3 separate regions of the Homo sapiens genome follow, and all the other regions are linked to region 2. The links come from fine-mapping of genetic effects on gene expression. A gene starts in region 2. Each other region holds a variant in brackets. All regions are shown on one strand. Distances are between the middles of the regions.

Evidence for each region.
Region 1: its variant is fine-mapped to the expression of SHC2 in whole blood (TOPMed, PIP above 0.99).
Region 3: its variant is fine-mapped to the expression of SHC2 in thyroid (GTEx, PIP above 0.99).

The regions. Positions count from the first base shown.
Region 1 is chr19:291,389-299,543 of GRCh38, forward strand. PLPP2 (phospholipid phosphatase 2) reads right to left here and starts at 15. Exons shown (of 6, transcript NM_003712.4): 1 at 1-15. RefSeq lists an enhancer at 2,609-3,458. The variant G/A (reference allele first, on the strand shown) is at 4,288.
Region 2 is chr19:456,807-464,955 of GRCh38, forward strand. It overlaps SHC2 (SHC adaptor protein 2), which reads right to left and starts at 4,227. Exons shown (of 13, transcript NM_012435.3): 1 at 3,723-4,227. The coding sequence starts at 4,190. It overlaps CIMAP1D (CIMAP1 family member D), which reads right to left. Exons shown (of 4, transcript NM_182577.3): 4 at 6,555-7,558. The coding sequence ends at 7,038.
Region 3 is chr19:398,063-406,231 of GRCh38, forward strand. C2CD4C (C2 calcium dependent domain containing 4C) reads right to left here. Exons shown (of 2, transcript NM_001136263.2): 2 at 7,383-8,169. Among named protein-coding and RNA genes, the nearest start is that of C2CD4C, 7.0 kb to the right of the region's middle. RefSeq lists enhancers at 1-1,123, 8,068-8,169. The variant C/T (reference allele first, on the strand shown) is at 3,368.

The DNA of each region.
Region 1 (8,155 bases), 170 kb before region 2:
CGGCCGCGGAGTCACGTGGCGCGGAGCCCGCCCCGCGCGGAGAGGAGGGGAGGGGCGGGAAGGGGAGGAGGGGAGGGGCGGGGAGGGCACGAGGGGAGAGGTGAGGAGGGGAGGGGAGGGGAGGAGGGAGGGTTAGGGGCGGGGAGGGGAGGAGGGAGGGGGAGGGGAGGAGGGGAGGGCTAGGGGCGGGGAGGGGAGGGGGGAGGGGGAGGGAAGGGAAGAAGGGGGGGAGGGGAGGAGGGAGGGGGGACGGCAGCGGCGGGCAGGGGAGCAGCGGGGGGGGCGGGGCGCGGCGGACCCGGGACCGCGCGGACTCTGCCCCCGCCTGGCCGCGGCGCCCAAAAGAGCGGGTGGGGCGAGCGTGCGGGCGCCACGGGGACCTCGTCCGCCCGGAGTCCCGGCCCTGACCCGGGCTGTGCGGGTCTCCGAGCGGCGTGAGGTCCTCAGAGGCTGGAGGTTCCCCGCGGGTCGGGCCGGCGGAGCCCCGGGCGGGGACGTGGAGAAGGAGGACGAGCAGCGGCGGGACCGGCCCCGCGGGACGGTTCCCGACTTTCCTCCTCAGGGAGTGGCAGCCGCGCCGTGTGCGCCTGGAAACTCCGACAGCAGGAGGCACCTTAAAGTGGAAGGGGCGACGTGGCTTCATTTCAGGAGTTTCTTTTCTCCTAATACTCAAAATCCTGGCGCGTCCTTGGACCCCTGGCACGTTAGAAGCTCGAGTTCCTCGGCACCCACCTTGCGACGGCGTAGGGTGTCCAGGCGCAGCCCTGTGCCCAGGCACCGTTCCTATCAGCGCACTTGCTGTCCCATTTCACAGAAGAGCACGGGGGCGCCAGGAGCTGGGAACCCCATGAAATGGCGCCGGGGTCTGTGCCCCCACCAGGTCGTGGGGAGCCCTGAGCTGAGGGTGCCTGGGGATTGAGGGCACCTGAGCCAGGGAAACCCAGGCCCAAGGGACCCACACTGGGTCCTTTCGGCTGGGACCATCCGGGAGGCCTCAGGAGTGTCAGACCCACGTTTCCGGAGTCCAGCCTTGACCTCTGCCACTCACGGTCACTTAAATGGGAAGTGGCAGGCCTGGGGTCAGAAACAAGGCTGCTGGGCCCCAGATCCGCTGCCACCCTGACCCTCCTCTAAAACCCGTTCAGCACCACCATCAGCCCCCTGCCCCAGCAACACCAAAACAGGGTGCGTCTCAGCAACTGGACTTCAACTGGGAGCTCCTCGACCCTGCTTCCCGGATGGTCAGACACCTGCACGTGGGGCAGGGGGGCATCATGAGGGAACTCCAAGGGCAAGGGGCTCTTGGGAGACAGCAAAGGCACCCAGAGTGGTGCTGGGTGGGAAGACGGTGCAAGCTGACCTGTGGCCCTCCAAGGGCAGGGTTGAGGTGCTCCCTTGCTGCACTCACGGTGGGGTGGGGGGGCTCTAGCTCCCGTCGGAATTAGGATTGTGAGGGTTCTGGTGCCTAGCATCAATGCTACATAAATGTAGGGTTCAGCGTCACTACTGCGCTTTCCCCCACACTTCACCCTGTCTGCAAATGAGTGACCACTGCTGTCAGTGTAGTCTTGACAGCCAACGCACATTTTCTCCTAAGATGGAGAGGGTGCAACATCTACTGGAGTCAAGGAAAGGCGGTGTTCTTCATTGAGCACCTACTGTGTGCTGGGGAGCAAGGGAGAGGTCACTTGGAGGGGCCTGCCAAAGTGGGAGCGGGGGGAAGACAGTGGGGGCTGTGGGATGGGGCCAAGCCAAGAGGGAGAGACCCAGGAGAGGGGTGGAGGTAGACCTGGGAGGATAGAGGGTGGAGGTGAGGCTGCAGGCTGTTCCCCCTTCCATCCTTCCCCTTGGGTCAGGATTTGGGTTAGCCCTTAAAATCCCTGGGCAGGATAAGGATTAAAATCTGGTGGGGAAAGCAAGAATTAGGATTAGGGTCAGGATTGGGGTCGTCTCCTACATATGCTGACTGCAGCCCACCACACTTCAAGGAACTTCTTGTCACGGCTTTCATAGCTGGATCTGCTGCTGCCCCCAGCTGCCTGGTCCTCCCTTCCAGGAAGAACCTGAGGCCAGGGCAGCTCCCAGCAGGGACAGAGCCTGGCCTGGAGGCCAGGCCTCAGTGGCTTTCTCCTTCACCTGCAAATAGCAGAGCTGGAAGCGGGTGGTGGTACATGTACCCAGGCTGGGTCCCCTAGAGACAAGCAACCCCTGAGGGCCAGGTCGCCACTCCCAGGCAAGCAAGCTCACGGGTTCAGCAACTGCAGCTCCCGCCTCTTGCCCAGCACTGGCTCTGCCACCTTGGTGCCTCATCGCAACCTGGATGGCTCCGGGCCTGTTTCCAAATGGACTCTATGGAGACTAAGACACCTGTGAAGTGGGCAGAAGGGGGCCTGGCACACAGTAGGTGCCACCTAAGTGCAGCCAGCCACTATACCTGCCGTTGCTTTCTCTGCTTCTCTGGGACTTGAGAGGTGAAGTACCTTGCCCAGAGTCAAAACGGGAGTTGTCTCCCAGGTTCCTGGCACGGGGCTCTTGGAGTCGAACGAGTGCCCGTCAGTGGGTTTGACGTGCAGGCAGTGGGCAGGGAAGGCTGAGGGGGTGGATGGTTTGGAAAGACATCTAAGGTATCCCTCAGTCTCTGTCTGCATAAAGGCGGCAAGACAGTAGCTACCACCTGGGATTGTAGAGAAGATTAAATAGTTTGTGAAATGCTTGACCCAGGGCCAAACATTAGGAAACATCATTTGAGGGTTAATTGAACAAAATACAGTGTGGGTAGGTATCACGTGTTTGCTGGGTCAAGATGTAGAAGGTACTTCTTCCTGGGGTCAAGATTTAAAAGGGTTGGAAACCGCTGCCTTCAAATTCACAATCCAGGACCCACGAATTCAAAATTCCCCTCGGACTTTGCAATCCTTGGAGTGCCTCTTAATTTAGTGTAACCTTACAGTCAGTCAGGGACAGGGTAACCCTCCGGGTTTCAGCACCGCGAGTCTGCTGTGCTCTGTCTGTGAGGAGGTCTTCACTGGGTCACAGCAAAGAAAAACACACAGCAGTAGTGCTGGACGTGGTCGCCAGAGCCCCTCGCGCAGACAAGCCGGGACGCGGCCCCCCTGCCAGAGCCCCTCGTGCAGACAACCCGGAACGCACAGCCCCTCCCACCATCTCAGTCTGTGCGTTCGTTCACTGTCCCCGTCTCCTCCCACGAGCTCCAGGAAAGTGGGAGCTGGCACACAGTGGGTGCGCAAGCCGTGCTTACTGGGATGCCCAGAGCCTGAGGTCACCAGGGAGCTGACAGCTGCAGGGAGCTCTCCCTGGGTCACAGCAAGGCAAGACACACAAGCAACAGCGGAGGGCAACAGTGCGTTCTCAAAGGGAGAGCTGGTTTCCGCCTGCTTCTCGTACAAAACGAGGGGCAGAGATGGCAGGGGCCACCCCGCGAAACACTCGATTAAATCCCCGTTCACAAACCTTCCTGATGCCTGGCAGCCCTATCCCTGCCCCCGAAACCAGCATCTGGTGAAGGCAAGGAGAGGCACCTGGAAGACCTCAAATCTTTGCAGGTCTGCAAAGCCACTGAGCACCCACAGACCCCAAGGACCTGGTTCCGACTCAAGGAAGAACAAGGACGGTGGTGGCGGAGGGGCTCCAGAGAACTCGTAATGCCTCTGGTGAGGCCACCGCCGTCCTGCATCTCTTGATGTGACTGGTGACAGCCCACCAGGGCGGGGAACCGGTTCACCTCCCAAGTGCTCACCGGGGGCCGCGCTTTCGACTCTCCCTGCACAGGCCGTGGGTCGTGGCTCCGGGTGAGTGGAAACATTTGCCCCGCAGCGACCACCGCCCCTCCCTCCCCGACCTCGAGCCACAGGACCAGGGGACGGGGCTGGGCTGCGCTCTGGGCCCCGCGATGCCTCCGGGAGGCACGGCCGCCCTCTGCTGGACACGCCGAGGAGGCGCTCCACGCCAGGGTCTCAACATCCTCCTGAGAACAGCCCAGCAATGGGGCAAATAAACATCAAGGACCCCCTAGCTGAGTCCTGATACCTGTGAAACAAACAGGACACCCCGTTACATTTGAATCCCAGAAGAGCAACAAACCGGTTTTCAGTATGTGTCCCGAATACTGCATGGGACATACTTACACATTCGTTTATCTGTAATCCGAGCCCAACTGGGCATCCTGTATTTTATCTGGCCATCCTACCCAGGAACTACAAACCGAGAAAACAAGGACCATCAGGGAGAGAGAAACAGCTGGGTCAGGTCAGTGGGGGCCCAGACAGC[G/A]CCAGTCCAGGGCCCGGACATCTTCAACAAAGCCTGGGCCTGGGAGGCTGAGGCTCTGGGGACCGTGGCCGGTCCAGGACCATCAGTTCTGAGCGACTTTCTCCCTCCCCCACTTCCACCCCCACAGAAATTGTCTCAGGAGGGCTGATCTCCAGGCAGGCCCCTGGCTAACGCCTGCTTCCTGGCACGGCCATGGACTCTGTCCAGAACAGATTTCCATATTTGGTTAGCAGGTAGGAAGGAGGTCATCAAAGACCTTCACTTCACTGTAAAAGGAAAGCATTAAATAAACGAACACAAATGACTTTTATTTATGGCTGCCGAAAAGCTGAGGACAGTAAGTTTGTTCTAGAGAGGTATGAGCTCCCCTGAGGTTAGTCAAGACCAAGTCTGGTGGAGGCCTCATTAGTCCTAGGAGCCTGGTGTCAGACAAATCCGGAAGAGCCCCAAGGCACAGCGGGCCCTCCAGGTCCTCCTGCCTGGGTCTGGGCTGCAGGAAGGGCAGGATTCCACCACCCCACAGCTAACCCAGAGGCAAAGCTACGCTACACAAGCGGTGAGCAGGCCAGCCCAGCTCCTCGAGACCAGCACATCAACCCAGCTGCTGACAGGAGAGGGGCAAGCCCTTCCTGAGGCAAAACAGTATCCCCTCTGCTCCTTAACTGTCTTACCCACATCTAGTGCACCCTCAGAAACACAAGACACCATGGACAAGAACAGAATATTAGTCAACAATGGCATCCCAGGGTCTCTCCCAGCTCCAACCTATCTTAGATATTCCAGTCAAATCCAATCTCCCTAAAGCGTGACTCTACTTCAGCTAAAAAACACACTAAGGCTCCCCACTGCCTTCCCAGTTTCAGATTTCTTGGCCTAAGAGGGAAGTTGTTCCTGCACTGCCCTCCTGACCTCTGTGCTCACCCCACACAAATGGGACGCTCATGCCTCTGGGTGGCTGCGCCCGGCCTGCCCATGTGCTCCTCCCTCTTACTATTCCTTCTCCATGGGGCCTGCCCTGCTACCGAAGGGGAACAAGGGACCCTGGCCTGGCCAACCAGGAAACCCCTTCTGCTCGGCAGTTCCTGATTCAGTTATGGGCACGAGACCCAAGAACAAATTTTACCCAGGAGTTTTGTTAGAACAGTTGGGCAAGATACAGGCTTCCCACAGAAATCACAGATGTAAGGTTGTGTGCCTGGAGCTTCTGGTGCCATCTCAGTCGCCACAAAGGGCGCTGCCCCTGAGAAGAAGGTCAGTTCGGGCAGCAGAGAAATAGAAGCACCGAAACATCATAATGTGGATGGTGACTCCTGATTCCTGTTTCTGGAGGCCCTGGCATCCCCGGACTGGGTCTTAAGAGTATAACTTTCGGGCTGGGCACAGCGGCTCACGCCTGTCATCCCAGCACTTTGGGAGGCCGAGGAGGGCAGATCACAAGGTCAAGAGTTTGAGACCAGCCTGGCCAACATGGTGAAAGCCCGTCTCTACTAAGAATACAAAAATTAGCCGGGCGTGGCAGCGTGTGCGGTGTGGTGGTGTGCGCCTGTAATCCCAGCTACTCCGGAGGCTGAGGCAGGAGAATCACTTAAACCTGGGAGGCAGGGGTTGCAGTGAACTGAGATCACACCACTGCACTCCAGCCTGGGCAACAAAGCGAGACGCCGTCTCAAAAAAAAAAAGAAAAAGAAAAGGAAAAAAAGGGCTGGGCTCAGTGGCTCACGCCTGTAATCCCAGCACTTTGGGAGGCCGAGGCGGGTGGATCACCTGAGGTCAGGAGTTCAAGACCATCCTGGCAAACATGGTGAAACCTCGTCTCTACTAAAAATACAAAAACTAGCCGGGCATGGTGGTGGGTGCCTGTAGTCCCAGCTACTCGGGAGGCTGAGGCAGGACAATATCACTTGAACCTGGGAAGTGGCAGTTGCTGTGCGCCGAGTTCACGCCGCTGCACTCCAGCCTGGGCGATAGAGCGAGACCTCGTCTCAAAAAAAAAAAAAAAAAAAAAAAAGCAAAGCAATAGGATGACAATGATTTAAAGTAACTATTATTAAAAGGTTAAAGATTACAGAAGAAAAGATAGGGGCAAGGTGAGAAAATGGAGAATTTCAGCAGAAAAATTAAAAACACATAAGAGCACCTATTAAAATATACAATATGGGAAATAAAAATTTTGTGAAACAGACTAAATAGAAATCTGGAATATCAGAAAAGAGGATTGGTAGCATCAAAGACATGTCGATAGAAATTATTCAGAGGCCGGGCACACTGGCTCACGCCTGTAATCCCAGTACTTTGGGAGGCCGAGGCAGGTGGCTCACGAGGTCAGGAATTCAAGACCAGCCTGGCCAATATGGTGAAACCCCGTGTCTACTAAAAATAAAACAAAAATTAGCCGGGTGTGGTGGCGCACACCTATAATCCCAGCTACTGGGAAGGCTGAGGCAGGAGAATCGCTTGAACCCAGGAGATGGAGGTTGCAGTGAGCCGACATCATCGACATCATGCCACTGCACTCCAGCCTGGGTGACAGAGCAAGACTCCGTCTCCCAAAAAAAAAAAAAAAAAAAAGAAATTATTCAAACAGAAGCACAGAGAGAGAGAAAAATAAAAGAGAGAGCTGTGAGGCAACACCGAGGGTTGTAACATTAGTGACTGGAGAGACTGTGGGTCACCCATGGCCATGACACCAGTGACTGGAGAGACTGTGGGACACCCATGGCCGTGACACCAGTGACTGGAGGGACTGTGGGTCACCCATGGTCGTGACACCAGTGACTGGCGAGACTGTGGGACACCCAGGGCCGTGACACCAGTGACTGGAGGGACTGTGGGACACCCATGGCCGTGACACCAGTGACTGGAGGGACTGTGGGACACCCATGGCCGTGACACCAGTGACTGGCGAGACTGTGGGACACCCAGGGCCGTGACACCAGTGACTGGAGAGACTGTGGGTCACCCAGGGCCGTGACACCAGTGACTGGAGGGACTGTGGGACACCCATGGCAGTGACACCAGTGACTGGAGGGACTGTGGGTCACCCATGGCCGTGACACCAGTGACTGGAGAGACTGTGGGTCACCCATGGCCGTGACACCAGTGACAGTGACTGTGGGACACCCATGGCCGTGACACCAGTGACTGGAGGGACTGTGGGACACCCATGGCCGTGACACCAGTGACAGTGACTGTGGGTCACCCAGGGCCGTGACACCAGTGACTGGAGGGACTGTGGGACACCCAGGGCCGTGACACCAGTGACTGGAGAGACTGTGGGTCACCCATGGCCGTGACACCAGTGACAGTGACTGTGGGACACCCATGGCCGTGACACCAGTGACTGGAGGGACTGTGGGACACCCATGGCCGTGACACCAGTGACTGGAGGGACTGTGGGTCACCCAGGGCCGTGACACCAGTGACTGGAGGGACTGTGGGACACCCAGGGCCGTGACACCAGTGACTGGAGGGACTGTGGGTCACCCAGGGCCGTGACACCAGTGACTGGAGGGACTGTGGGACACCCATGGCCGTGACACCAGTGACTGGAGGGACTGTGGGACACCCATGGCCGTGACACCAGTGACTGGAGGGACTGTGGGTCACCCAGGGCCGTGACACCAGTGACTGGAGAGACTGTGGGACACCCATGGCCGTGACACCAGTGACTGGAGGGACTGTGGGTCACCCAGGGCCGTGACACCAGTGACTGGAGAGACTGTGGGACACCCATGGCCGTGACACCAGTGACTGGAGGGACTGTGGGTCACCCATGGCCGTGACACCAGTGACTGGAGGGACTGTGGGACACCCATGGCCGTGACACCAGTGACTGGAGAGACTGTGGGTCACCCATGGCCGTGACACC
Region 2 (8,149 bases):
GCCTTTGCACCTGCTGTGCCCCTGCCTGGAACTCTGTCTGCAATCCCCACCACGTGGGGCCTTTGCACCTGCTGTGCCCCTGCCTAGAACTCTGTCTGTAAACCCACTGCGTGGGGCCTTTGCACCTGCTGTGCCCCGCCCCTAGAACTCTGTCTGTAAACTCCACAGTCAGGCCTTTGCACCTGCAGCTGCTGTGCCCCGCCTAGAACTCTGTCTGTAAACCCACCGCGTGGGGCCTTTGCACCTGCTGTGCCCCGCCTAGAACTCTGTCTGCAAACCCCACCACATCAGGCCTTTGCACCTGCACCTGCTGTGCCCCGACTAGAACTCTGTCTGCAAACCCCACCACATCAGGCCTTTGCACCAGCACCTGCTGTGCCCCGACTAGAACTCTGTCTGCAAACCCCACCACATCAGGCCTTTGCACCTGCACCTGCTGTGCCCCGACTAGAACTCTGTCTGCAAACCCCACCACATCAGGCCTTTGCACCTGCACCTGCTGTACCCCCCCTAGATCTCTGTCTGCAAACCCACCATATCAGGCCTTTGCACCTGCACCTGCTGTGCCCCGTCTAGAACTATGTCTGCAAACCCCACGGCCGGGGTTTCCATGGCTCAGGTCTCAGCTTCAAGGTCGCCTCCTGGGAGGGGCAGCCGCCCAGCCTCCTGCTCTAATATCACACGATTTTAGCTCTGCAGAGCCGCTACCAGAACCTATTTCCTCATCTGTTTGTCCTCTTCTGATTGACTGTCTCTCCTACTGGAATCCAAGCTCCTTGAGAGCAGGAACGAGGTCTCTCATTGTCTACTCATCATCTGTGCCGGGCAGGGGAAGCGTATGCTAAATATTTCCTGCAGTGACGGAAAGCAGCAGTTATCCCCCAACATCCGGAGCCCCAACAACCCTGGCGTCTGAATTCTGAACATTCTAAATCCCACATCCACGGCCAATGGCCACACCTGACTGGTCCCAATGGATGTGGTGTGAAGGAAGCGCACGCGTCCTCCGTGGAACACGCCGGCCGTCGGCGTTAAACTTGTAGGACAAACCGCCGGGAGACGGCGAGGGCGGCCCGATGCCACCAGGGAAAACAGACCCAACCAGGCCTGGCATCCGCACAGACCCGGGGGAGGCGGAAGTGGGTCCCGGGGAGGCGGAAGCGGGTCCTGGGGAGGCGGAAGCCGGTCCCGGGGAGGCAGAAGAGGGTCTTGGGGAGGCGGAAGTAGGTTCCGGGGAGGCGGAAGCGGGTCTTGGGGAGGCGGAAGCGGGTCTTGGGGAGGCGGAAGTGGGTCCCGGGGAGGCAGAAGCGGGTCTTGGGGAGGCGGAAGTGGGTTCCGGGGAGACGGAAGCGGGTTCCGGGGAGGCAGACGCATGTTCCGGGGGACGGGGAAGTGGGTTCCGGGGAGGCAGACGCGGGTTCCGGCGGAGGGGGAAGTGGGTTCCGGGGAGGCGGAAGCGGGTCTTGGGGAGGCGGAAGTGGGTCCCGGGGAGGCGGAAGCGGGTCTTGGGGAGGCGGAAGCGGGTTCCGGGGAGACAGAAGCGGGTTCCGGGGAGGCGGAAGCGGGTCCCGGGGAGGCGGAATCGGGTTCCGGGGAGGCGGAAGCGGGTCCTGGGGAGGCAGAAGCGGGTCTTGGGGAGGCGGAAGTGGGTTCCGGGGAGGCAGACGCATGTTCCGGGGGACGGGGAAGCAGGTTCCGGGGAGGCGGAAGCGGGTCCTGGGGAGGCGGATTCGGGTTCCGGGGAGGTGGAAGCGGGTCCTGGGGAGGCGGAAGCGGGTTCCGGGGGACGGGGAAGTGGGTTCCAGGGAGGCGGACGCGGGTTCCGGGGAGGCGGAAGCCGGTCTTGGGGAGGCGGAAGTGGGTTCCGGGGGAGGGGGAAGCGGGTTCCGGGGAGGCGGAAGCGGGTCTTGGGGAGGCGGAAGTGGGTTCCGGGGAGGCGGAAGCGGGTCCCGGGGAGGCGGAGGCGGGTTCCGGGGAGGCGGAAGCGGGTCCTGGGGAGGCGGAAGCGGGTCTTGGGGAGGCGGAAGAGGGTTCCGGGGAGGCGGAAGCGGGTCCTGGGGAGGCAGAAGCCGGTTGTACTGCGCAGGCCGAGCGCGCCTGGGGACCACACGTGGGGGAGTGAGGTTTCACAGCCAGCTTCTGGGGGCTCCCACAGGCTTTGGTGGGCCCGGGCTTGAGGCCCCCACCTCTGCCTGTCTCCTAACGGCCCGCTCCTCTGTGCATCTGAGTCTAAAGTTCCTTCTCCTTACAGAGACCCCTGATCCAGGTAGGCCTCATCTTGACTAGGTTACATCTGCAAGGACCCTGTTCCCAATATAAGGTAATAAGGTCAGACTCCTACGGCACAGGAATTGTAGGGGGACCCTTCTCAACTCGGTGTAGGGGGAAGGACCCCACTGAACCCAGCGTAGGGGGAAGGACCCCACTGAACCCAGCGTAGGGGGAAGGACCCCTCTCAACTCGGTGTAGGGGGAAGGACCCCACTGAAGCCAGCGTAGGGGGAAGGACCCCACTGAACCCAGCGTAGGGGGAAGGACCCCACTGAAGCCAGCGTAGGGGGAAGGACCCCACTGAAGCCAGCGTAGGGGGAAGGACCCCACTGAACCCAGCGTAGGGGGAAGGACCCCACTGAACCCAGCGTAGGGGGAAGGACCCCTCTCAACTCAGCGTAGGGGGAAGGACCCCACTGAACCCAGCGTAGGGGGAAGGACCCTTCTCAACTCAGTGTAGAGGGAAGGACCCTACTGAACTCAGCGTAGGGGGAAGGACCCCACTGAACTCAGCGTAGGGGGAAGGACCCCACTGAACTCAGTGTAAGGGGAAGGACCCTTCTCAACTCAGTGTAGAGGGAAGGACCCTACTGAACTCAGTGTCCAGAAAAGCAAAGACACAACCCAATGTGAACACAGGCTAATGTTCCTGGCCGCAGAGGCCGGGAGGAGCTGGGAGCACCCACCGGTAGTGGCGTGCGGGAGTGGCTGATCATTTTCCCAGACGCCGTAATGACTGCAGCTGTAGGACAGCTGCTCTCTCAGAAGACGGGGGACTATGCACGGCGCTGTCACCCCTGCAGGTGACTTCACACGGTTTACTATAAACCACAGAGAGGGGCAGACCCGTCAGCAGAGGGGAAGGTTACCCTCCTAGGTGGAGGCGTGCTGTGTCCAGGCGCCCGACTTCCCCGTGTGTTTGAAAAGGTTCATTTATCATAAGACCCAAGGTAAATAAACAAAGGCCGCTTCCTTGGCCGCCCTGGAAGTCCCTGCTGCCTCCCATCTGGAATCCTGGGGTCTGTCCGGGCGCCAGCCCCTTTCCAAACACCCCTTCCCGCACCCCCACCGCAGGCCAGCGTCTCGGGCCCCGTCTGTCATTCGTGAACAGCTGTCCGGGGGGCTCCGGTGGCAGAGACGCCCCGGCCGCTCGCCGCTCTCGGCCTCGCCCGCCCAGTCCGAGTGGGGGGCGGTGCACCTGCGCATGCGCGCCCCTCCCCCGCCGCCCTCTCCCCGCCCCTCCCCACGTGACGCCGTGGGAACCCGGACCCCAGCGCCTCCGGGTGGGGGCAGCCGCCGGCCGCCGGCCGGGGATGGGGGTCCGGGGTGGCGGGAGAGCAGGAAGGATGGGGAGGGGACACCTGGCTCGCGGGGTCCGGGGGTCCCGGAGGAGAGGGTGGGGGAGGGGAGGCCGCCGCGAACGGGCTCCCGGGGGGGGTGGGGGGGACTCACCCGCACGACGTAGGAGACCCCGGGCCCCAGGACCCTGGCGTCGGGGTGTAGCCAGCCGTGCGCGGGTTTGTGGATGAAGCTGCCCTTCCGGATCCACTCGGCGGCGGCGGCGGCGTCCCCGGACCCCGCCGCCCCCCGCCCGCCCCGCGACCCCCGCGACCCCGCGCCCCGACAGCGGCTGAGCGCGGGCAGGGGACAGGGCGCGGCGCAGCGGGGCTCGCAGGCGCCCAGGACGGCGGCCGCCAGCGCCGGGACGCCCCCCGGGCCCGCCGGCTCGGGTTGGGGGTCCGCGCCCCCCGAGGCCCCAGCCGCCCGCGCCGCCGCCGGGCCGCGGCCCAGGAAGCCGCCCGGGGCCGCGAACTTCCACTGCGGCATTCGGGGCAGCAACGCGCAGAAGGTGGTGGGCGCCTCGGGCTCGGGGGGCGCGGGGGGCGCCGGGGGCGCGCGCCCGCCCGGACCCTGCGTCATGGCCGCGGCCGCCCGACGGAGCCCGACCGGGCGCTGCGCCTGGCGCGGAGGAAGCCCTCCCGCTCCGCCCGCTCCCTCCCGCCCCCCGGCCCGGTGATGTCATCCGCCCGGCCCAGCGCGCAGCCGCGGGGGGCTGCGCCCCTGGGACCCCGGCCCTCCTCGTCCCGGAGCCTGGCCGCGAGGCTGGGGAAACTGAGGCCCTCCGAGGACACCGGGCGCTGGCCTGGAACCCGCAGCCAAGGCGGGACGGGGCTTTGAACCCAGAACCCCGTCAGCGACCCTCCCCGCTGCGCCCCCCACCCCCGCCCGCCGCCCAAGTTCGCAGAAGGACCGAGCTGGAGAAGCTTAGAAATTCCACATCCCTTCTTTCCCCTATTTCCTAGTGGGGAAACTGAGGCCCCGGGAGGCGCGGCCAGGGAAAAGAGAACCCCAGACCCTAAGGTCAGCCCCTCCCTCTCCGTTGTTGCAGCTAGAAGGTACCTTAGGGTCACCCCTATTTCTTAGTGGGGAAACTGAGGCGCGGGGAGGGGAAGGGGCGCGGCCGAGGGCTCACAGACGAAGCTCAAACCCAGGAGTGCCGGCTCGGGGGTGGGGGGGGGGGGCGGGGCTAGGAGCGGAGCCGGGCCCCTGCTCTGCGGCCTGTCCCGGCCTCAGTTTCTCCGGCTGTAACTCAGGGGAGCGGGCTGGAGGGTCGCGGCCCTTCTTCCCTCACTTCTGGGGAGCCCAGTCCCGCACCAGCTCATCTGAGCTCTGGGCCTCAGCCTCCCAGGCCGGTCGCTCCATCCCCAGCCTCAACCTCTCCGAGACCGGCCGCACCTTCCCTGGCCTCAAGGGTCGGTTCCTTCTGCACCAGAAAACGGGGTGTCACTGTCACCCCGGGACCCAGCCTCCTGGCCCGACTTGGCTGGAGCTCCCCTGCACCTGCCCCGCCCCAAGCAGGGCTGATTGCCGGGAACAAAGGGAGGGGCCGGGACGCGCTGGCAGGTGGGGAGGGAGGGAGGGGCGAGGCTGCCCGGAGCCCGATCGATAATTCAGGGGATGAGATCACAGCCGGCGCCGCCCGCGGGGCCGGGGAGGTGGGGGAGGGGAGCGAGGCGCGCGGTCGCGATCGGCCGTCTCTGCCGCGGCGCGTGTCGGACTCAGCCCCTGCGCGTCCGCGGGAGGAGCAGATCGTGGGCGCGATTGGTCGGGCTGGAGCCGCGGCTGGACCTGCGCGCGGTGTGTGTGTTGTGCGCAGGGTGTACGCTGTGTCTGGGTGCGTGTCCAGGCATATGCAGGGGATCCAGGCTGCTGGGTCCTGGGGTGTGTTCACCTAATGGGTAAAGGGTGGGACAGGTTTGGCGGCCCTAGGCTGAGGGCTGTGGGCTGAGGAGAGAGCAGCCCCACCACCCCCTCTCTGCGCCCTGCATGCCTCCCAGGCTGCATCCCTCAGGGAGGTCCCGGGGCAGTGTCGCACCCTCCCAAGCTCCGGGATTAGGGTCTTTCTGGATGGGAGGTTTGTAAGGTGGTCCAGGTGCCATCCCTCCCTGGCACACAGAGGGCTCAGTCACACGGCACCCCCGGTGTGTTTCCTTCCTGTCCCTTGGAGACAGTGGCAGGAACTCAGTCCAACATCCAGAGTTCAAATCCTGACATCAGACTGAGGTGGGGGCTCACAGCATGCCCCAGGACAAATGTCCAGTCTCTCCAAAGCACCATTTCCTCTCAGTAGATGCCCCTGGTCCTGAGTTGCTATGAAGCCTAGATGATCTTTATTAATATCCAAAACATAGCAAGCAGCTACTGATGGCAGATATTAGAATACCTCAAGCTCCTATACATCCTTCAAAACCCAGCTTCAATATTGCCTCTTCCAGGAAGCCTACCTGGCTGCCTGCTCAAAAGCTTGGCTCCACCTCCGGCCTCCCCTCGCCCTGGGTCTCTCTTCTGGTCTCTCAGACCCCCTGGCCACTGGAGGGCTACGGGTCTGGCTCTGGAGGGCGGCGTTCGGGTCTCTTTTCTGTGACATCAATAGACACGTTAAGGCCGGGCTCGGTGGCTCATGCCTGTAATCCCAGCACTTTGGGAGGCCAAGGCAGGAGGATCACAAGGTCAGAAGATCGAGACCATCCTGGCTAACATGGTGAAACCCCATCTCTACTAAAAATACAAAAAATTAGCCAGGCGTGGTGGCGGGCGCCTGTAGTCCCAGCTACTCGGGAGGCTGAGGCAGGAGAATGGCGTGAACCCGGGAGGCGGAGCTTGCAGTGAGCCGAGATCGCGCCACTGCACTTCAGTCTGGGCGGGAGTGCGAGACTCCGTCTCAAAAAAAAAAAAAAAAAAAAGACACATTAAATGAGTAAGCACATGTGATGCTGACAGCTCTCCAGCCCAGGAAAGGTTTATTGGCTAAGCAACTGTAGAAGGTGGAGTGGGAAAGGCACAGGCCTCGGGGCTGCCTCCAGCCTGAGTTTGGGCTGGGACCGGGGCTAACCCAAGCTGTGATGGGGATCCAGGCCCTAGTGGAGCTGGACGCCGAGTTCTGGGACACAGGAAGCTCCATCTCCAGCCAGCTACTGGGGAGGGCCGGAAGGTGTCCCTTTCCCCACCTGGCCTGGCCTGGCCTGGCGTGACCTGGAAGAAACTGGGGCACTGGAAGGAGACTCACCCTGCACCCTGCACAGGGCCATGGGTCACAGCCCCCAGGGACTGGAAGGATCAGGTGTCCTAGAAGGACCTGGACAGTTCAGGAAAGGGGAGGGAAGACTCCTTTCCCAGCCCCTCTCGCCTTCTAGCCCCTCCAGCCAAAGCCAGGCCCCAGGAGAGGCCCGCCAGCCCCCCGTTCACTGTGTGGGAAACAGGCCTGGCCTAGCAGCAGCGGCCGGGCAGCCTGTGCCCCGCAGGCCGGGAGGGCGTGGTGGCGGCCATGGTGCTGGCCCGTTTCGAGTGGCGGATGCCCATAGAGAACGCTGGAGCCCTGGCTTTGTTCACGGTGACCTGCTCTGGGCAGTGGGCGCCAGGGCCGGGGGTCTCCTCCAGGGGTCGCGGGGCCCGGGGCCGCCCCAGCATGGTGAAGGCAGGCAGGCGCTGGCGGTAGGTGTTTGCGTCCGGGCTGTCGTACTGGCCCGGGCCTGGTATCTCAGCAGGATCCTGCGGGGGGCGGGCGGGGGGGGTGCGGCCCACCACCGTGTAGCTGGGGCTGCTGGGCTTGGTGAAGATCTGTGAGCCCCACAGAGGGGGCATGGTGTAGGCATTAGGGGCAGGGGCTGAGGTGTCCAGGGGCTTCAGGGGGAGGCGGCAGCCCAGGGTGAAAGCCGGCGGTGTCCGATGGCGCACAGGGGGCACCTTCTCTGGGCTGTAGGCCCCAGGGCCTGGCGTCACCTCCGGACCTGAGAGAGTGGGGAAGGAAAGGTGGCACTGATGTCCTCACCTGCCCAGAGACCCGGCCTGGCTCCCCATGGCCCACATGCACCCTGGAGCTTACAACGCTTCTCAAGCAGCCTGGGTGCCTTTCTCTCCCTTCCCCATCCTCCATACACATGGTCTGTGTTTCAAGCCTCCAGGACTTTGCCCAAGCTGGACCCAGGGCCAAGCACGCCTTCATTTTCCACCCCTCCTCCCTGCTGCCTTCCCCAGCCCATCCAGGGTAGAGCCCTCACAGCCCTTCCAGAGCCCCACAGCCTGGGTTTTCCCCTCTCTCCAGACGTGAGCACACTGAGGTGGGATGGTCTGCACCTGCATCTAACTGCCCCACCAGACTGGGATCCCATAAAAAGGAAGGCATGTCAAATTTACTCCAACTCTCCAGCAGTTGACTGTCTGAGTTGATGGGTGAACAGGATAGGTAGGAGGTGAGTGGTTGAGCGGGGAGTGAATGGTTCATGAAGGGATTTGTAAATGGATGGATGAGTGGATGATGGATGGATGGATGGATGGATGGATGGATGGATGGATGGAACGGTTGATAGGTAGAAGGAAAA
Region 3 (8,169 bases), 59 kb before region 2:
TGCAGGACTCAGACTAGGCACCCACCCCAATGCTTGTCGATGAGAAAGCCTCAGTCAGGAAGGAACTCGGGCAGACCAGGGATGGTGCCCCTGCTCCATGACATCTGGGAGTCTGCTCTAAGACCAGGAGGCTGGGGCCCACCTGGGCTGCCAGCTGCACCTGCCTCCCTGGGCCACCTCCTTTTCATGGCCTGGGTTTGGAAGCTACCCACTGCCACTTTGTATTGCGCGGAGCAGTCTGGAGGGGACAGGCCCAGTGGCCACTGCTCCATGGGGTGAGTCTCAGCTCTGGAGAGCGCAGGGCCGGGAACATCATGTCAGGGACACCCTGGAGCTGTGGTATCCCCGACACGAGCATAAGGCACAGCAGCACTCAGTCCACATTTGCCAAAGGAAAGGGGAACAGCCAACACGCATGACCCCTCACCGCGTGCAGACGACGCGTGACCCCTCACCGCGTGCAGACGACACGTGTGACCCTCACCGCGTGCAGACGACACGTGTGACCCTCACCGCGTGCAGACGACACGTGAGACCCTCACCGCGTGCAGACGACACGTGAGACCCCTCACCATGTGCAGTCACCTTGCTAGGCAGCTTATGTGCCTTCTCTCGTTTCATCCTCAGGTTTGGGAAAATTATCCAGAACTTGGAAAGGGGTAAAAACATCACTGCCTGCTCTTTGGATCCTGGACCCTCGGCACGGTGGGCCTCAGAGCTGATCATTCCCTGGGGTGGGGCCGTCCTGGGCACTGCTGGGTGCTGAGCAGTGTCCCTGGCCTCCGCCCACTCCACACCAGGAGCTCCCCTAGTCGTGACAACCACAGAAGCCCCAGACGTTGCCCCGTGTCCCCGAGGGGCCGAATCACCCAGAGGATCAGTTGTATTCCAGAGCCTCGACCAGCCCGGCCACCCGGGGGTCACTTTGTGGACGCTTCCCTCCACTCTTGCCAGTGTCCTGGCTCTGGGGTTGGACGCTGCTTGGGATTGACAAATGCGGATGAGTTTTGTCCCTGAGCGGCAGGTGCCTCCTTCCTCCTGCTGCGTATAAAACTCAGTCCAGTCCTGCCGTTCCTTAGTAAACACTCGGACGCACCTTTGACCTACAGTGGCCCGTGGTCTGAATGAGGTTTATGCGTGAGTGCTTTGAAAGCTCAATGTTGCCATCACCTGAAGCCTAGAGGGCAGTGTGCACTGGGCACCTCACTTACACAGGAGGAAACTGAGGCTCAGAGAGGGGGAGGGGCTGGCAGTGTGGGAGCTGCAGTCCTTGATCTGAGCTGTCCCCGTGACTTTGGGAGATGAGGAAGGAGCATTCTGTGGCTTGGCTGGGGGAGCCCAGGTGGGAGGGGAGGGTGGGGACACAGTGGCTGGTGGGCGGGGGGGTGCCTCTGAGCCGCCTGGGCCACAGGCAAAGGGGTTAGGGAGGTGAGAGGGGAGCTTGGGGGCAAGGGTCATGTGTCTCCACGGCCGGGCAGGTGCACACTCCCAGGGAGGCCACGAGGACTCTGTGGCCCGGGGATTGGAGTGAACCACGCTGAAAGGTCAGAGGGCAGTGTCCCAACAACAGTGCCCCCGTTCCAGCCCCAACGGCAGCCCAGGGGTTCCCAGGCCCACCCTCACTCTTGCAGGGGTCCCCAGGCCCACCCTCACTCTTCCAGGGTTCCCAGGCCCACCCTCACTCTTCCAGGGTTCCCAGGCCCACTCTCACTCTTCCAGGGTTCCCAGGCCCACCCTCACTCTTCCAGGGGTCCCCAGGCCCACCCTCACTCTTCCAGGGGTTCCCAGGCCCACCCTCACTCTTGCAGGGGTTCCCAGGCCCACCCTCACTCTTCCAGGGGTCCCCAGGCCCACCCTCACTCTTCCAGGGGTCCCCAGGCCCACCCTCACTCTTCCAGGGGTCCCCAGGCCCACCCTCACTCTTCCAGGGTTCCCAGGCCCACCCTCACTCTTCCAGGGTTCCCAGGCCCACCCTCACTCTTCCAGGGTTCCCAGGCCCACCCTCACTCTTCCAGGGTTCCCAGGCCCACCCTCACTCTTCCAGGGTTCCCAGGCCCACCCTCACTCTTCCAGGGTTCCCAGGCCCACCCTCACTCTTCCAGGGGTCCCCAGGCCCACCCTCACTCTTCCAGGGGTTCCCAGGCCCACCCTCACTCTTGCAGGGGTTCCCAGGCCCACCCTCACTCTTCCAGGGGTCCCCAGGCCCACCCTCACTCTTCCAGGGGTCCCCAGGCCCACCCTCACTCTTCCAGGGGTCCCCAGGCCCACCCTCACTCTTCCAGGGTTCCCAGGCCCACCCTCACTCTTCCAGGGTTCCCAGGCCCACCCTCACTCTTCCAGGGGTCCCCAGGCCCACCCTCACTCTTCCAGGGGTTCCCAGGCCCACCCTCACTCTTGCAGGGGTTCCCAGGCCCACCCTCACTCTTCCAGGGGTCCCCAGGCCCACCCTCACTCTTCCAGGGGTCCCCAGGCCCACCCTCACTCTTCCAGGGGTCCCCAGGCCCACCCTCACTCTTCCAGGGTTCCCAGGCCCACCCTCACTCTTCCAGGGTTCCCAGGCCCACCCTCACTCTTCCAGGGTTCCCAGGCCCACCCTCACTCTTGCAGGGGTTCCCAGGCCCACCCTCACTCTTGCAGGGGTTCCCAGGCCCACCCTCACTCTTCCAGGGTTCCCAGGCCCACCCTCACTCTTCCAGGGGTCCCCAGGCCCACCCTCACTCTTCCAGGGGTCCCCAGGCCCACCCTCACTCTTCCAGCGGTTCCCAGGCCCACCCTCACTCTTCCAGGGTTCCCAGGCCCACCCTCACTCTTCCAGGGTTCCCAGGCCCACCCTCACTCTTCCAGGGGTCCCCAGGCCCACCCTCACTCTTCCAGGGGTTCCCAGGCTCACCCTCACTCTTCCAGGGGTTCCCAGGCTCACCCTCACGCTTGATGATTTGCGAGGACGCACGGAACTCCCAGCAAGCTGTCCTCGTCACAGGTAGGGTTTGTCACAGTGCCGGGGTGCAGGTGCCGTGGGCTGGGGAAGAGCACATGAGGCAGCGTCCCGGAGAAGCCCCGTGGTCCTGTCCGGGGAAGCCGGGAACTGCTCACTCACAGGGCGCACGGACCACCAGGAAAGGGCACGGCAGCCTAGGCGCCCAGAGCTCTGCGAGGGATCCCTCGTGGGGGCTTGATTGACTGATTGCTTGCCACGGGGTTGCCCTCGAACTCCAAGGGTGTCTGACGCTGTGAGACCCAAGGCGCTCCCAAGTCCCACGGTTGGTCTTGCTGGTGTGACCCTCCCTACCCCAGACCAAGACGCTCCCCTCAGGCAGGGCAGAAATCACCTCCCAAAGCCAAGGCAAAGCCCAGACCTCACCCCGCA[C/T]GAGAGGATTCCTCACCCCACGGGGGAAGGTGCGGGTCTCATCCGTGGCACCGCAGCAGGGCTCAGCCGGTGACCAGGACTGGGTGCCACGGGTGCTGGGTCCGTGCCCACTCCAGCCCCACCAGCAGGCAGGGAGGGTACAGGGTGCTGCAGAGGAAACCGAGTCACAGAGAACGGAGGGACTTGTCAGGATTCTGACCCATGGCTGGCAGAGCACAGCTCCCTGGGGCCCTCTCTGCCAGATGGCAGGGGCCGGCCATGCAAGCAGGTGTCCAGTCCCACCCAGGAAGGGCAGCGTGGGTCCAGCCCTGGTCCGAATTCCTGTCCTGTCAGCTGGGAGGTGTGCGCAGGCCCCTTTGCCTTCTGTGCCTCGGTGTTTCCATCTGTGGATGGCAGTAGGCAGCGTCTTGCTGAGGATTCAGCGGGTCCTCCCGCCCACCCACCCACGATGCGCTTAATCAACAGGCCCTGCCCTGCGTGTGACCCTGGAGAGAGGCTCTGGGACCACGTCACTGTACAGTAGGGTAAACTGAGGCTCAGGCGCCGGCCCGCGGGAATGGCCCGCCCTCGTGGGAGGAGCATGTGTGCGGGTCGGCGTCCGCCTCCTCCTTTTTATTGAAGTCATTTTTCTCCTCCTGTCAGCGGAACTGGCCGTGGGCAGCCCCTCCCTCCCACCCCCAGGAGCTGAGAAGAAAACAAAAGCTTAATCGAATCCGGCACTGGGGCGGTGGGTGCCGCAGAGAGAGGCCGAGGGAGCCCCCGCCTGGGTGGGTCTGAGGCCGCCTGTAATTATGGCCCTGATGTGATTATATTAATTATCGTCGCTATTTTGTGCCGGCTTCCGCCCGGCGAGCCTGTGGATTGAGCTCTACTGCACACAAGCCGCCAGGGCTCATCACAGACAGAGCCTTCGGCCTCGGGAGCCTGAGACCCAGAGAAGCCACGCACTGCCCCGGGCCACACCCCACGTGGAAGGTGGGGCTTGAAACTCACCCTGCGGCTCCCCACACACGTCAGGGTTAGAGGTTCAAGGCCCCAGAGAGGACAGGCCGCAAGGCAGGGGCCCTGGGAAGGTGTTACTCCTCCTCCTCGGATGGGAGAGACCCACTGGATCAGTGTTCTGTCACCTTAAAAAATGAATCAGCCGGACGTGGTGGCTGACGCCTGTAATCCCAGCACTTTGGGAGGCCGAGGCAGGCGTATCACCTGAGGTCAGGAATTTGAGACGAGCCTGGCCAACTTGGTGAAACCCCGTCTCTACTAAAAATACAAAAAACTAGCTGGGTGTGGTGGCGGGCGCCTGTAATCTCAGCTATTTGGGAGGCTGGGGCAGGAGAATCGCTTGAACCCTGGAAGAAGAGGCTACAGTGAGCCGAGACTGCACCTCTGTACTCCAGCCTGGGCGACACAGCAAGACTCCGTCTCCAAAAAACAAACAAACAAAACAAAACAAAAAAACTGAAACAAGCCGGCTTGAGCAAACAAGGCACTTTACCGGCCCACCCTCTGAGCTGAAATGGTGCGCAGTTATGGACTTCAGGCATAGCTGGATCCAGGTGTCCGCAATGTCTCCAGGCTTCTGACTCTTCATCTGTTGTTCCCTATGATGGCTCCCCTCTGAAGAAGGGGCATCTTTTTGTAATTTGCACCAAACGGGGTGCCCCCCGCTTGTGGTGCCCATGGCCTTCCTGAGGGTCGGGAGACTCAGGATGGCCGCCAGTCTGAAAGGAGAGACTGCTGGCAGGTGTGCCTGCCTCCTTCACCGCACAGCACCCACTGGGGCCGAGCGCTCTGTGGCGCCAGGGATGCTGGAGGTGCAAACAGTAGATTCGTTCTGCTCAGGATCAACATCACAAGGCAGCAAACGGCCACAGCCAGGAGGGAACAAGGGCATCTGACTCCCCCGGGGTGGGGGCTGACCTGAAGGGCAGTGGGCCAAGACCTGAGGCAGGGCGAGACACCACGCAGGCGCAGAATCCCTGGATGACGCCCACTTGGAAGTGGAGGGGGGAGGGCATGGGCAGCTGCAGCTCCCAGACACCAGCACACACAAACGCACACACAAGTGCACACCAGCAGCGACACAGGCACACACAAGCGCACACAGGGTCACACATGCATACACGGCTCACGTGCTTACACGTGCACACGCCAGCACACAGGCAGCTATACTCGAGTGCCTGCAGGCGCTCACCTGGCACTGTCACATACGCCCAACAGATGAGCACGGTAACGGCACACGCAGTCACACTGCACACACATGCGGAAGCACATGGCGACGTGTGTGCACCTACCTGGCACGCACACGCACACACCCGTGCAGCCTAGCGATGAGTGGCTGGGGCTGAAGAGGCTACAAGGCGCCCGTAGCCCTGTCAACCCGTCCCAGGCCCTGACTGGGGCTCACCAGGCCGCGGTCAGGAGGCCGGGCTACGCTGAACCCCAATTCCCAAAAGCTCCTGGTGGATTTGAGATGGCAGAGACATCTGGACCCCATGGGCAGCAGGAGAGACAGAGCAGCCCAGCCTGGGCTGAGAGCACAGGGACGGGTCCTGCCCCGAGGGGTGTGAGGGGGGGACGGGGTCCTGCCCTGAGGGGTGTGGGGGGGACGGGGTCCTGCCCTGAGGGGTGTGGGGGGGACGGGGTCCTGCCCCGAGGGGTCTGAGGGGGGGACGGGGTCCTGCCCTGAGGGGTGTGGGGGGGACGGGGTCCTGCCCTGAGGGGTGTGGGGGGGACGGGGTCCTGCCCTGAGGGGTGTGGGGGGGGGACGGGGTCCTGCCCTGAGGGGTGTGGGGGGGACGGGGTCCTGCCCTGAGGGGTGTGGGGGGGACGGGTCCTGTCCTGAGGGGTCTGAGGGGGGGACGGGGTCCTGCCCTGAGGGGGTGTGGGGGGGACGGGGTCCTGCCCTGAGGGGTGTGGGGGGGGGACGGGGTCCTGCCCTGAGGGGTCTGAGGGGGGGACGGGGTCCTGCCCTGAGGGGTGTGGGGGGGACGGGGTCCTGCCCTGAGGGGTGTGGGGGGGGGACGGGGTCCTGCCCTGAGGGGTGTGGGGGGGGCACGGGGTCCTGCCCTGAGGGGTGTGGGGGGGACGGGGTCCTGCCCTGAGGGGTGTGGGGGGGACGGGGTCCTGCCCTGAGGGGTGTGGGGGGGACGGGGTCCTGCCCTGAGGGGTCTGAGGGGGAGACGGGTCCTGCCCTGAGGGGTGTGGAGGGGGGATGGGGTCCTGCCCTGAGGGGTCTGAGGGGGGGACGGGTCCTGCCCCGAGGGGTGTGGAGGGGGGAACGGGGTCCTGCCCTGAGGGGTGTGGGGGGAACGGGGTCCTGCCCTGAGGGGTGTGGAGGGGGGATGGGGTCCTGCCCTGAGGGGTGTGGAGGGGGGACGGGGTCCTGCCCTGAGGGGTGTGAGGGGGGGACGGGGTCCTGCCCTGAGGGGTGTGAGGGGGGGACGGGGTCCTGTCCCGAGGGGTGTGGGGGGGGGACGGGGTCCTGCCCTGAGGGGTGTGGGGGGAACGGGGTCCTGCCCTGAGGGGTGTGGGGGGAACGGGGTCCTGCCCTGAGGGGTGTGGAGGGGGGATGGGGTCCTGCCCTGAGGGGTGTGAGGGGAACGGGGTCCTGCCCTGAGGGGTGTGGGGGGAACGGGGTCCTGCCCTGAGGGGTGTGAGGGGGATACGGGGCTGTGTCTAGAGGGGGTCTGTGGAGACAGGGTCCTGTCTGAAGGTTCTGAGGGGAGGCGGGACCCACCCTGTAGGGACCGTGTGGGGTCCGAGTCCTGTTTCCTGACATCCATGTAGTCAAGAGCTGGAACCGTGAAGCAGAACCCAGACCTGCCGCTCCAAGGGAGGTGGTTTATCAGGGGCTGGGCTCCTGCCCCCGCCTGCCTCCACCCGGGGCAGGAGAATGCGGAGGGCAGTGGAAAGGACCTTGCCAATCTGGAATCCTCTTCTCCTTCCTCCCTGGAGTTCACCGCAGAACTCTCTCGTTATTAAACAGCCAGGGAAGCCAACCTCCACCCCCGTATTCCCGAAACACCTTTATTGCACTATAAACAGCATTTATAAACAAACACAGCTGGGGAGTGTCTTAAAGATTTACCCACAGTCAACCTCAGACACTAAGATATCAAAGAGTGCAGGGGGGCTACTAAACGGGGGACCCCAGGGAGAACAGGGCCTGGGAGGGGTGAGCATCAGAGAAGGCGGGGAGCGCCGGCGTCTCTCTCCATGCAGGGCACCCTCCCCGCCTCCCCGGCCTGAGGAGCCTCCGCCCTGGGTGCCCTGGCTTCCGGGAGAGAGCGGAGCCCTGCAACACCAGGCTCAGAAGGGGCCTGCACTCTCCCTCTGGAGGGCTCACAGGTGTGTCCCACCGGACGTGCAGCAGGGGCCCAGCTGCTCCTCCAGTCCTGGGAAGCAGCTCCTCCACCCTCCCCTGGACAAGAGGAACAATGTGTGGCAAACGGGCTGACAAGGGACGTCCCTGGGTACCACAGATGTGCCCTGGTTCCTCCGTGCCCACCAGCAGCCGGGAGAGGCGAAGGCACTGGCCTGGCCTGGCCCCTGCTTTGAGTCTTATCATTTCTGCATCATTCTGAGCTGGAAACCTCCCCAAAATCATTCAAGGACCCACATAACCACACAATGGAAGCCTTGCAGCCACCTAACAGCAGGAAAGGCCATAGCCAGGTCCCCCCAGCTGCCTCCTGGGCTCCGACCCACCCACCGTAGCCACAGCCTATTTACACACGTGGCGTCAAAGCCACGGCCGTCAATCACTGCGTGTCGCTCCCAGCTGCAGACGCTGGACAAAA